Linked DNA regions of Homo sapiens: regions 2 and 3 are each linked to region 1. The links come from fine-mapping of genetic effects on gene expression. A gene starts in region 1. Each other region holds a variant in brackets. All regions are shown on one strand. Distances are between the middles of the regions.

Region 1 (4,244 bases):
TTGTACATTATCTCTGCTTTTTATTCCTCTTATAAACAACCTTTTTTTTAACCTTAAAAAATCTTCAGTAATGAAGACACAGAAAGTGGTATCAACAGATTTCCTGACTTACATTTTTGTGATTCTAACCAATAACCACAGGGAGGTTGAAGATTTCACTACTTAATCTCTAAATGTCCATAAATAATGATGCAAAGCAAAACCAGGACCATGTGCAGTTTCTTGTCATTTATTCTGTGCAAAAAAAGTGAGTGGACTGACATTAAAACATAAGGAAGTATGGCTCACAGATGCAGAATTCTGTTTAACTACCTTTCTTTTAGTCTCAGCCTCATGAAAACAGTAAATACGTTTCTGTGCCGCTGTAGGTTTTCCACATCGCCCATAGAAACCTCACCAACTATTAAGCACAATTCTGCCGAAAGGAACATGCCCAATTTCATTTTTTAAAACGCCATGTTTCAGATGAAAACACAGTCTACCAAAGATGTCATATAAAAGAATAACAAAGAAAGGGACAGCATTTTTAGAATTGAATTTCAATGCATAACCCCACCATCTGTCAACCAGTTGTGAAGCAATAATCCTACAGAAACCCTGAAAACACGAACAAGTTTTATCCCTGAATCTATGTATACTAACAGCCACTCTCAGGACCTCAGTACTAATTATGTTCTGTCTGTGGAGTAACCTACAGGAACGACATTTACCACTGGCAAACTTAACCCTGGTGACGAATGGCCCATTTTAACAGACTTGCATTAGGTAACAAATGCAGAGTTCAGTTCATAGAGGTAACGGGGGAAGGGGAGGAAGACGAGGGGGCTCTTGAAATTTGGTTTGGAAATTGAATACAGGAGGTTAATCTCTAGAGGCCAGTCATCCAAACAACCCTCAGTCTCCTCCCCGTTGGCTTCAGAAACAGGATTACAATTTTGGACCTAGACTACGCCCCACCCCTTTTCCCGCTGCAGCCACCGCCACCTTCGAAGTTCTAGTCTTAGCTCTCACGCAGCGGAGCTGCGGACTCCCTCACCGAGAACCGCACCAGGACCCCATTCAGTAGTGAGCGGCGCGCTGGGACTCTGCTACCAGCTCCGCGACGCCGCCGGCAGCCAGCCTGGCTCGGGAGACCCCACCCCTCCCAGCCCGGCCCCCGCCCCCGCCCGGAGCCGCCGCCTGAGTTACGCAGCCTCAGCCCTGACACCTTCTCTGCTTCTTTCCATCTGGATCACCTGGGGCTAGGGGCGGGCGGGAGTAGGGCTGAACCGAAGTGGGATAGGAAAAGCGGGGAAGAACCGAAGCAGTCCCAGCTGCAGAGAGCCAGGACGCCAATGGCAAGACCCCGGCCACACATACACTCTCCTGCGCGTCCTGCTTCTCGGGTTCAATGCCAAGTGGCGACAGGGTGGAAGGAAGGAAGCAGAGGTAGGGTGGCGGGAAGGCCCAGAGTTACTGGTAACGACGTTCGGAGGAGAGCAGGGGATGCTTCAGAAACTGAGAAAGTGAGAAAGTCCCAGACCCCCTCCTTAGCCCCAAGGCTGCCAGCAGCCCGGGTCGCCTTCCCTACAGCGAGGCTCGAGAGACAGGGAGGGTAGTCTGAGCCAAGCTTCCTCCAGGCTGCCCTCCCTGATCTGGCCCAGGGCCCAGAACCCGGCCCCTCTTCAGCCCTGACTTGGGGAGGCTGACAGATAGGCAGCGGACTTGCCAAAGGACTCTGGGGAAGCAATAGGGCAGGAGAGGAGCATCTTGCACGCTCCAGCCGGGCTGCTCACGACTTCCTCTGCCGACACACCCCCAGCTAACCCTCTCCCCCGTCGTCACACACACAGATTCAGAGACACGCGTGCGTTCATCCCTCCCACCAGCCCAGGTCCATCGATTAAAACACTAGTTGATTTCTTCCTGATTAAAAAAAAAAATTAAAAAGTGCAACAACAACTCCTCTCAGGACTCCAGGAGCAAAGAAAGTCCGTCTGCAGGCGCCTTTTCTGTAGTTTCCCAGGAGTTTGGAAATCTGGCTGTCCCTGCTGAAAATCGGAAAGGGGACCCCGGAGGGGTCGAAGGGTGCCGAACTCCCTCCCCACCCCTGCGCCTCTCACCTCCTTAAGTTCCTTGGCCACGTCCTTCAGGTCGCCCAGGACTAATTCCAAATCCTCCACGATGATCTTGATCTGTTCCTTCACCTTGGTTTTGGAGGCTGCCGGCGGTCCCTCGGCTGGACAGGACGAGGAGGGGTTCCCCTTGGACTTGGCTGACATTCTTTGGGGGCAAGCGAGGCAGGTCAGGACAGGCGGGCGAGCGGAGGCTGCTGCGTGCCCCCGTCCCTGGCGCTGCTACGGCCGCTGCCGCCCCGGTCCCCCCACATCTTGGGCGCTCCCTGGGCAGCGGCGAGTGGCTGCGCTCCGCGCTCGGCCGGGCGGCCGCACAGTGGTGCTGCCATCAACTCCCGAGACGCGGCGCTCGGCTCGGGGCTGCAGACGGGCGAGCAGCGCGCCTGCGCCTCCTCCCGCCGCCGCCCGGCGCTCTCGCGCACACGCGCTCGCTCCCCGCCCGCGGAGAGGGGCGCCGTGCTGCCGCGCCAGGGTTGACGCTTGCAGTCCCCTCGACGTTGCCCTTCGAGATATCTCCCAGATGCCACCTTGGCATCAAGGTGGGGGAGACAAGTCCGTGTCCTGCCCGCCCCCTCCTCTTGGTTCTGAAATGTCCCCATCATCTCAGCCTGCTTGCTGTATGTCATCTCACAACTAGCCTGGATTCTTTCTGCTTCACTTGCTAGCAGGGACCTGGATCAATTCAGAAAGAACCACAGTGGGATCAGGAGTTGGAGACAGTCTGTAAAGTGGCCCTACAGATTTATCCAAACCCAAATGATGTCCAGAGGCCTTTAATCAATCTCTTGGTGACCTGCGAGTTAAGCAGACTTCTTAACTTCTGCAAGAAAAAAGGGGGGGGGGGGTGCACATAACAGCTAATGGTCATCTATTGAAACCATGAAATTCAACCAGTGTTCTTGAAAGAGGTACCCTAATCCTGCTAATTCCACAAAGCTAATACCGGATTTATTAATTTGAAGTCCCCACACCCCAAATCCTCTCTGATTGTCTCAGTCATCTTGGCTGTATGTCTTATTTGGCCCAACTCTTTTTTTTTTTTTTAACTGTCCTTCCTCTTTTTGTGACCTATGCTGATTTACATTTTGAGTGGAGTGGGGGAGACATCGTATTTGGACCTCGTGAAGGAGCTGAGTAAGAGATTGCCTCCAACTTCTCTTTCATCATTTTTTAAACCTCCATTTCAACTCTTTTGCTACTAAACAAATAGGAAACAACTTTCTGACTGTTCTGTCAAAAAGACCCAAGAAGGGAAGTTAATAGGAAGCCTTCGGTTCACTCTCAGTAGGTGTCTACAATTCTCATTAGCTAGAATTTTAACTTCCTTAGTTGTAAACCCATGGGCTATTAGCTACTGACCCAGCAGGCTGGCTCTACTTTATTTTCTTCACTGCACACTCCTCCAGATCATTCTTTTAATAGGCTTCCCCTTTTCGTCGTGCCTTAGCAAGGCTCTCTGTTTCTTGCTTCTCACACTCTGGGTAGCTCCACTGTGCTACACATAAAGAAAAGCTTGGCAGCTCTCCTCTTCCCAGTTCTGTAGGCTCTTAATCAATCACTCTCTTAATCCTGGACAATTCATCTTTACAAAACCTTTGGAAGTCATATGTGGAATATAGAGGAAGAAAGAGAACAGAAGAAAAAATTGAAATTTGAAAGTGGTGTCAAAAGAAAACCATTGAAAACTGCATTGAAAAATCAGGGGAAGAAATGAGAAAAGGTGAAAAGCAGATGCTGCTGGAAAGACTTAAGAAGAGATTATAAGAACAAGTCTGCAGCATGCAAACTGGAGAAAAGAAAAAGAGAAGAAATGATTAAAAGTGTGAAATAAGTAATATGCTTGAGTTCTCTGAGGTAGGGAGAATTAGATTTTTAAAACATCCTTTTTCTCCTCAAATTCTTTATTTTATAAAAAATATAACATTAAAATAATTATATCAGGTTTACAGACTCCCCAAAATTGTCAAAACTAGCAAAAGCTAATGGTAGGGGAAAAGAGAAAGTACTATTCTTCTAGATTGGAATTATTTTTGACTCTTAATAGTAGGCAAGTGTGTAAGAAAGCCGCCAAACTCAAAGTTAAGTGACTTTAGACAAGGATATGGGAGAGGAGGAAAGGAAATTGTGATT
Region 2 (4,244 bases), 390 kb after region 1:
TTATTAAGAAAAAGTTGCCTTATCTTTCTGAAAAGTTAAGGAATAAGTGTTTACAGAATTGAACCAATTCAAAGTAATTCGGAACCAATAGAAAAAGGCATACAAAAGATGTCAAAATATCAGAATTGTTGCTAATAAAGACCAGGTTGGAGAAAGCGACTTAGGTGTTACAGTAAAAAGGATTTCCTAAAGCCAAATTTCAGAAATAAAATTTCACTGGCCAAATTTTGAGAAGAGAAAAATTACACCAGAAATGCAATTTTGTAATAATGTGTCATGGACCGAGTGCAGTTGGCTGTCTGAATCTGTGGGTTCTACATTCATAGTTTCAACCAAGTACAGATTGAAAATATTTGGAAAAAAATTGCATCTGTACTGAATATGTACATACTTTTTTGTTGAATTATTCCCTCAACAATACAGCATTTACATTGTATTAGGTATTATAAGTATTCTGGAGAGTATTTAAAGTTTACAGGAGGATGTGCAAAGATTATTGGCAAATAGTATGCCATTTTATAACAAGGATTGAGAGTATTCATAAATTTAGGTATTCATGGGGTTCCTGGAAACACTCCCCCAGGGAAATTGAGGGATGACTGCACTAGTCTACAAATATAGTCAGATCTCTGCCTTTTTCATGAGAACATTTAATAAAAGGAAAAAAGAAAACATACAGAGTGGCCAAGAAATTCACAAGCAACAGAGACAGAAGCAGTGTGTTTTTATCCAAACTGCCATAATCTTGGGCAGCCCTGTGTGATAGTGATTGACACAAGTTTTCCACAAAGTAAGATTTAGGATGTTCTCTTTGGCACTGCTTATGGTCAAATATTTTAGCTCAGAAAAATTAAAGACAGATAGATGCCCATCTCACTCCCATGTCAGTCAGATCTTCCTGGAATTTGACATATTTTAATGAAACATAGAGTTTTACTTTTTGGAAAGAAAAATCAGTCATATTCAAGGTTTATTAAACAAGAGATAACTGTTTGCCTGTCTCTCAATTTCCTATGGCCCAAGGAGCTCAAAGGTCAAACTCCTGATTTGGATTAGAGGTTTCCCATATGGCAAGGCAATGTTTAATCCTCAATCAGGGCAGCTGTAAATAAAGCTTCTATCAGATTTTCTGAATTTTTTACTTAAAAAAACCATTATTTTCAAATTCACCTGATCTCCCCTTTACAGCATTTTTATGAATTTAGGCAAAAAGACTTGATACACAGTGTGAACAATTTCTATAACCCTGGCTCCAGACATCTGTAAATTACAATAATCACAGATGTGCAGCAACTGTTACACTAACAAAAAGTCCAGCATCTGGAGCTATAGTGTTTCTACTCTTCTCCCATGGACGTTTCAGCTCCTTGAACCCTGAGAACTCCTTTCTCTGGACATCACTTTTTGGGCTTTCTTTTTACAACTAATTTTTGAATTTTTTTTTTTTTTTGAGATGATGTCTCACTGTGTCACCCAGGCTGGAGTGCAGTGGCATGATCTCAGCTCACTGCAACCTCCACCTCTCAGGTTCAAGTGTTTCTCCTGCCTCAGACTTGAGTAGCTGGGATTACAGGCACACACCACAACACCCGCCTAATAGTTGTATTTTTAGTAGAGACAGCATTTCACTGTGTTGGACCAGGCTGGTCTCAAACTCCTGACCTCAGGTGATTGGCCTGAGGCCTCAGCCTCCCGAAGTCCCGGGATTACAGGCATGAACCACCATGCCCAGCCTAGCTTTTGAATTTTTAAGGTAATGGAATAAGTTTCCATTTTATTCCAATATACTCCATATCATCAAATTATATTTATTTATGCCCTGCCTAATTCCAAGTTGGCTTTTAGATAATAGACAACAAAGAGCACAGATATAGTAAGTCTAATAAAGTAAAATTTTAAAATAAGGACCAAGGACAGAAAGAACAATTAAATCACCTGGGCCAAACCATTTATTAATCATCTATCTAATAAATTATATTTATCTCTATGATTCTCAGCAAAAACAAAGAGAAATGGAGGGATAAGGGATTATGCTTATCAAATGCAGAATAAGTTCTGGCTCTAGGTAGTTGTTCTACTGTCTACTATTGAATTGAATAACTTAGATGATTAGAAGTCTACTTTTATTTTATCCTCTGACGGAGTCACCCTTATTATGATGTACTTTAATGGCAGGTTCTTGGTTTTCAAAGATAATTACGATAAGTACCTATGTGAAATATACTTTATTTTTGTAAGACATTCTTCCTTTTAATATACACTATACCCATAAGTTTAGTCAAATATGAATATAATAAATTTCTTTGAGATTTCAGTGCCATGAAAGTCTTTTTTTTAAATAAGGAATGGTAT[A/G]GGGGAATCAGTATGCATTCTTGATTTGGAAATCAAACGATTGGATGTAGATGGCATCCAATTATCTATATTCTATATTCATAGGCCATTGACAACATTTCATAGTGACACTCCTTTGCCACTGGATTATCCTGAAAACTTCTAAAAGAGGCTAACAGGCTTCAGTGTCCAAAGATTAGCCAACATCACTGAAGTTAAGAGTTTCATGGGAAAGAAAAGCATTTAGTGTTTTAAAAGAAAGCGTTGTACAGAGGGAGAGAATAGACAACTTCTAAAGGAATAAGATTCCAAGAAACAGCTAGTACAAATTGATGCTATTTTTCTTGAAATTTCTACTCAGAGAACACATATGCTGACTAGATTCTTCCCCAAATTCACCATTTTGCTATCCCTATTTTAAATTCAGCACCACCCGTGTATAGACAGACATAACTGTTCATAATTGTTTATATTTTCACAGAAATACAAAATATATTTTAATACTAAATTTATTAATTTCATTTGCATTAAAAAATAAAAACAAGTCTTAGTATAGCTCCTACATTTTTATGCCCCTCAGTTGAAAAACTTTGCCAGTAAAAAGGTTTGGTTTTGTTTTTTTAACTTTAAAGGACTTAAATACATTTTTAAATGAGTAGATTTTATGGATTTTGTAGTGAATTTTTACATTTTGTAAAACATGCATTTCTCAGAATGCTGAAAGTCAAGAACTAATAATCTTTACAACACTCACAGAAGGAGAACAAGTATATAAATATACAACTACTCATTCTATACCATATGAGAATTACTGTGTTAATTGTATACACTATATCTGAAACACAGACATGTTTTACTGAATAAAATTGCAAATATCAGTCACATAATTTCATGATGATTCTTATTTTATATCAAACCAACTGCATGTTTAATTTTTCTGTTGGGAAACATACATTTGACATTTAGAAATATCATACTGTTTTAATTTCTCAGGGTGTGTGTGTTCAAATTGGAATCTTTTAAATAAAGTAGAAATAAAGACTACTTAGGAGTATTTAATTGTCTTAAAATCCTCAAAATTAAATTATAAAACCCTTTTTTCTCAGTATTTTTTGTCCATATTTTCCTCCTCTTTTCATAACTGAGTTTCATGCCTCCACATCAACATTCTGGCACATGTCTAATTATAAGGAAGACTACAGTACCTTCTTTGCTTCATATTTAGAAACTATTTTTAGATGCTGGCTTTCACATGCATGTCTTTCTTTTTCTAAGTGGTTCTTTCACCCAAAATCAGACATAAAATTTCAAGCTAATGTTACCTAGCTAAAAATACAAGAGAATTAAGTACTTTATATTTACATCATATGAATTATCAGGAAACAAGTTACTGGTTGGAAAATAACCAGGATCCAAGTTAAGAAACCAGGAGATAAAACATTTCAGGGTTTCCAAGTATATGTTTTATTTGGATATACTGACAATTTTCTTTGAGGAATGGAAGTTAAGTTCTAGACCAAAATATACAAGTGAAATTTTGAAATTGAAAGTCTCTCACAACAAAAACAAATTTCATATTTCTGAATTCACAAATTCATTTCTGGATATTGGATGTTAATTGCTTCTCTCGTTTCGAAGTATTTTGCCTTATTGAAGGTTTAAATTATTCTCTAAAATGGCTAAGGAGTACTCCTGGTAGTGTTGCAGGGTCAGCAATCAATCAAAACAGATTATGTGCATAGGCACTAGCACAAGGGGAAGATAGAGTTTTCTGCATGAGACTAAACATATTTTTAACCCAATGAAATTTCTCCATAACACAAAAGGTAGATTCTTTTTTATTTTATAGCTGAATTTCTAAGTTATTACTTTGTATCTTCTAGTCCAATTTACAGTTCGTCTGAGTTGATCAA
Region 3 (4,244 bases), 59 kb after region 1:
CAACAGTCCCCCAAAGTCTTAATTCATTTCACCATTAACTCAAAAGTTCACAGTCCAATGTCTCATCTGAGACAAGGCAAGTCCCTTCTGCCTGCGAGCCTGTAAAATCAAAAGCAAGTTAGTTACTTCCTAGATACAATGAGGCTACAGGTAAGTAAAACCATTCCAAATGGGAGAAATTGGTCAAAACAAAGGGGCTACAGGCCCTATGAAAGTCCAAAATCTAGCAGAGCAGTCAAATCTTAAATCTCCAAAATGATCCCCTTGACTCTGTGTCTCACATCTGGGTCACACTTACGCAAGACATGGGCTCCCATGGTCTAGGGCAGCTCCCTGTGGCTTTGCAGTGTACAGCCTCCTTCCCGGCTGCTTGCATGGGTTGGTGTTGACTGTCTGTGGCTTTTCCAGGCATACAGTGCAAGCTGTCAGTGGATCTACCATTCTGGGGTCTGGAGGATGACAGCCCTCCTGTCACAGCTCCGCTAGGTGATGCTCCTGTAGGGATGATGTGAGGGGGCTCCAACCCCACATTTCCCATCTGCATTGCCCTAGCACAGGTTCTTCATGAGAGCCCCACCCCTGAAGCATGTGTCTGCCTGGACATTCAGGTATTTGCATACATCCTTTGAAATCTAGGCAGAGGTTTCTAAACCTCAATTATTGACTTCTGTGCATTTGTAGGCTCAACACCATGTAGAAGCTGCCAATGCTTAGGACTTGCACCCTCTGAAGCCACGACCTGAGCTTCATGTTGGCCTTTTCCAGCCACAGCTGGAGTGGCTAGGAGGCAGGGCACCAAGTCCCTAAGCTGCACACAGCACAGGGACCCAGGGCCTGGCCCACAAAACCATTTTTTCCTCCTGGGCATCTGGGCTTGTGATGGGAGGAGCTGCTGTGAAGACCTCTGACATGTCCCAGAGACATTTTCCCCATTGTCTTGGGGATTAACATGCGGCTCCTTGTTACTTATGCAAATTTTTGCAGCCAGCTTGAATTTCTCCTTAGAAAATGGGATTTTCTTTTCTATCACATTGTCAGGCTGCAAATTTTCTGAACTTTTATGTTTAGTTTACCTTTTAAAACTGAATGCCTTTAACAGCACATAAGTTACCTCTTTACTGCTTTGCTGCTTAGAAATTTCTTCCTGCAGATACCCTAAATCATCTCTCTCAAGTTGAAAGTTCCACAAATCTCTAGGGCAGGGGCAAAATGCCACCAGTCTCTCTGATAAAACATAACAAGAGTCATCATTGCTCCAGTTCCCAACAAGTTCCTCACCTCCATCTGAGACTATCTCAGCCTGGATTTAATTGTCCATATCATTATCAGCCTTTTGGTTAAAGCTATTCAACAAGTCTCTAAGAAGTTCCAAACTTTCCTGCATTTTCCTGTCATCTTCTGAACCCTCCAAACTGTTCCAACCTCTGCCTGTTACCCAGCTCCAAAGTGGCTTCTACATTTTCAGGTATCTTTTCAGTGGTGCCCCACTCTACTGGTACTCATTTACTGTATTAGTCCATTTTCATGCTGCTAATAAAGACATACCCAAGGCTGGGCAATTTACAAAGAAAAGAGGTTTATTGGATTTACAGTTTCACATGGCTGGGGAGGCCTCACAATCATGGCAGAATGTGAAAGGCACCTCTCATATGGCAGCAGATAAGATAAAAGAGAGCTTGTGTACAGAAACTGCCCCTTATAGAACTATCAGATCTCATGAGGCTTAGTCACTATCACAAGAATAGCACAGGAAAGACCTACCCC[T/C]ATGATTCAATTACCTCCCACTGAGTTCCTCTCACAACATGGGGGAATTCAAGATGAGATTTGGGTGGCTACACAGCCAAACCATATCAATTAGCAATAGTGGGTTCTTTTTTATGTAAATAAGAATAGAATGTTGATAAAAATTTGGAAAGGTTTTTCTTGAAATGAGTACAGTCTGGGAGAAACTTTGTCCTATCTCAGTGTTCATCCAGCTGCTGAGGATATGGTCAGTAATCAACAAAATAAACCACTTTACTGATATCAATTAGCCTTTCTTACACAACCATCTCAGATTTTGCTTGAGTTCATTAACGAAGTAGCTATTGCAGGAGGAATGAAGGTAATGCATAGATGCAAAAACATGAGCTGGCCTGACAGATACAGGGGTTAATGATACCTATCCAAGATATACTGATTAAATGTTTCTGAAGCCAAAAATGGGATTATATGAAACCTAAATAAGATAATGTATGCAAACTTTTATAGTCAGTGTGATTCACTGGCCCAATTAAAAAAAAACCCACACATTTATTATTAGAAACTGTGAGTACAAATCTGGACAGTAGTTGCATGACTCATCAAGATTTTCCAGAGCCTTAGTTTTCTCATATTGCTTTAGTTTCCTTTCAGAGTTGAGGGGATGTAAATGCAGATCTTGCTTGTGAAAGAGCTGAATTGTGAATTTCAATTATTTGCAAGGACTATGACTTCCATATTTGGATATACTCAGCATCTACCATGATATCTGACACATAGTGTTAATAAATAAATATTAATAAATAAAACTGGTCAAATTGCAAAGTTTTTGTACCATGAACATGTTAATTATTCATATTAATAAATTTAGCCTTTCAAAATACCTTAATAATATTCATTAATTTATTTATAAGGATCTGGATGTAGAAAAAAAAATTTTCTGTGTGTGTGTATAGTAACAAAATACCAATAGTTTTATTGAGGTAAAACATGATAAACTTGGAATCTGCTATGATTTGAATGTCCCCTCCAAAACTCATGTTGAAATTTAATTGCCAGTATGATGGTATTTGGAGGTGGGGTCTTTAAAAAGTGATTAAGTCATGAGGGCTTCACCCTCATGAATAGACTAATGTTACCACAAGAGTGGGTTGGTTATCATATGGCAGGGTAGTTATAAAAGTGAGGCCAGCCCCTGATGTTCTGCTCTCTTGCATATGCTTGCTCTCCCTTCTGCTCTTTTGCCACGGGATATTGCAGCATGAAAGCTCTCACCAGATATAAGCACCGTGCTTTTGGAATTCTCAGCCCCCAAAATGGTAAGAAATATACTTATTTTCTTTACAAATTATCCAGTCTATAGAATTCTGTTATAGCAACACAAGACAGACTAAGAGAGAAGCTATATGTCCAGGGCTATGGGTGGCACTGTAGTAACAGTGTATCCTGGCACTGTAATAACACAAAGAAATTCTGAATAAGCAATTGGGCAGGAAAAAATAGGTTTAGACTGTGGAAGGAAAGTTGACAGAGAGGTGAAAAACATGTGACAGGTGAAGAAGAAATTTATGGGAGGATTGAAGTGCCAAATGAGATATTTACTAAAATATTTTCCACACGGAATTTGTTATAAACGTTTTTTATCTCCTCTCCTAAATATGACTCCTCTCCCCGCTTTTTTTTTTACTTAAATCTACACACAGCCCACTAATGATGTGGTAGTGGACTTGAAGTCAGAAGGCTTCTCAATCTTTTTCAGAGATCATGAAATAAATACAAAAATTTTTAAAAAGTAAAGTCAGAGGGCTAAGATGAAAAGTCAAGTCCTGCTTCAAGGTTGGGAAATAAAAATTACAGACTGTTTAAGGAATGATACAAACTGGTTACACATTCAAACTGTTGTTTGCTAGTGGCCTCCATAGAACCTGCATTAGAAATGGTTGGCGATATCTAATTAATATAGCAATTAGAATAGTTTACATTTTCTTTCATTAAGCATACAACAAACTAACATACTTAGTATATTTATTTTTAAATATCTTCAATATTTACCATTATTTTGAGTATAATTTGTTCATTCAATCTTTCTTAAACATCTTTATTGAGAAATAATTCATATACCATGCAATTCACCAATTTAAAGTGTAAGCTTTAATGTTTTAAAATATTTTATAGGGTTGTGAAACCATTACCACAATCTAAATTTAGAAAATTTTCTTCCCACCTAAAATCAGCTCCATATCTATTGCCTCTCCACAGCATCCCTATCCCTCACAAATCTCTAATCGGATTTCCTCCACAGATTTGCCTATTCTGAACATTTAATAGTCAGTAATACTGTATGTGGCATTTGTCACTGGCTTCTGTAACTTAGTATAGTGTTTTCAAGAATCATCCAGGTGTAGCATGTATTAGTATTTCATTTATTTAACAAATAATATTCCAGTGTACCAATATACTACTTAGTACTTACCTATTCTTTAGTTGATATTTGCATTTTTTCC

Alleles and levels. Alleles are on the strand shown, and positions count from the first base shown. SD is a standard deviation of normalised expression in the study named. Not every link is listed here.
For the expression in monocytes after LPS of the gene that starts at base 2,448 in region 1, C is the low allele of the variant in region 3 and T is the other (moderate effect, 0.73 SD a copy in Quach 2016).

The links. PIP is the estimated chance that this variant, and not a neighbour inherited with it, causes the effect.
Region 2: its variant is the best candidate, but not a certain one, in a credible set for the expression of PRR16 in whole blood (INTERVAL, PIP 0.60).
Region 3: its variant is the best candidate, but not a certain one, in a credible set for the expression of PRR16 in monocytes after LPS (Quach 2016, PIP 0.84).

Annotation. Positions count from the first base shown.
Region 1 is chr5:120,462,504-120,466,747 of GRCh38, reverse strand. PRR16 (proline rich 16) reads right to left here and starts at 2,448. Exons shown (of 2, transcript NM_001300783.2): 1 at 2,103-2,448. The coding sequence starts at 2,261. RefSeq lists an enhancer at 1,573-2,074 and a silencer at 2,480-2,529.
Region 2 is chr5:120,068,644-120,072,887 of GRCh38, reverse strand. No RefSeq gene overlaps it. Among named protein-coding and RNA genes, the nearest start is that of PRR16, 390 kb to the left of the region's middle. The variant A/G (reference allele first, on the strand shown) is at 2,353.
Region 3 is chr5:120,403,570-120,407,813 of GRCh38, reverse strand. No RefSeq gene overlaps it. Among named protein-coding and RNA genes, the nearest start is that of PRR16, 59 kb to the left of the region's middle. The variant T/C (reference allele first, on the strand shown) is at 1,765.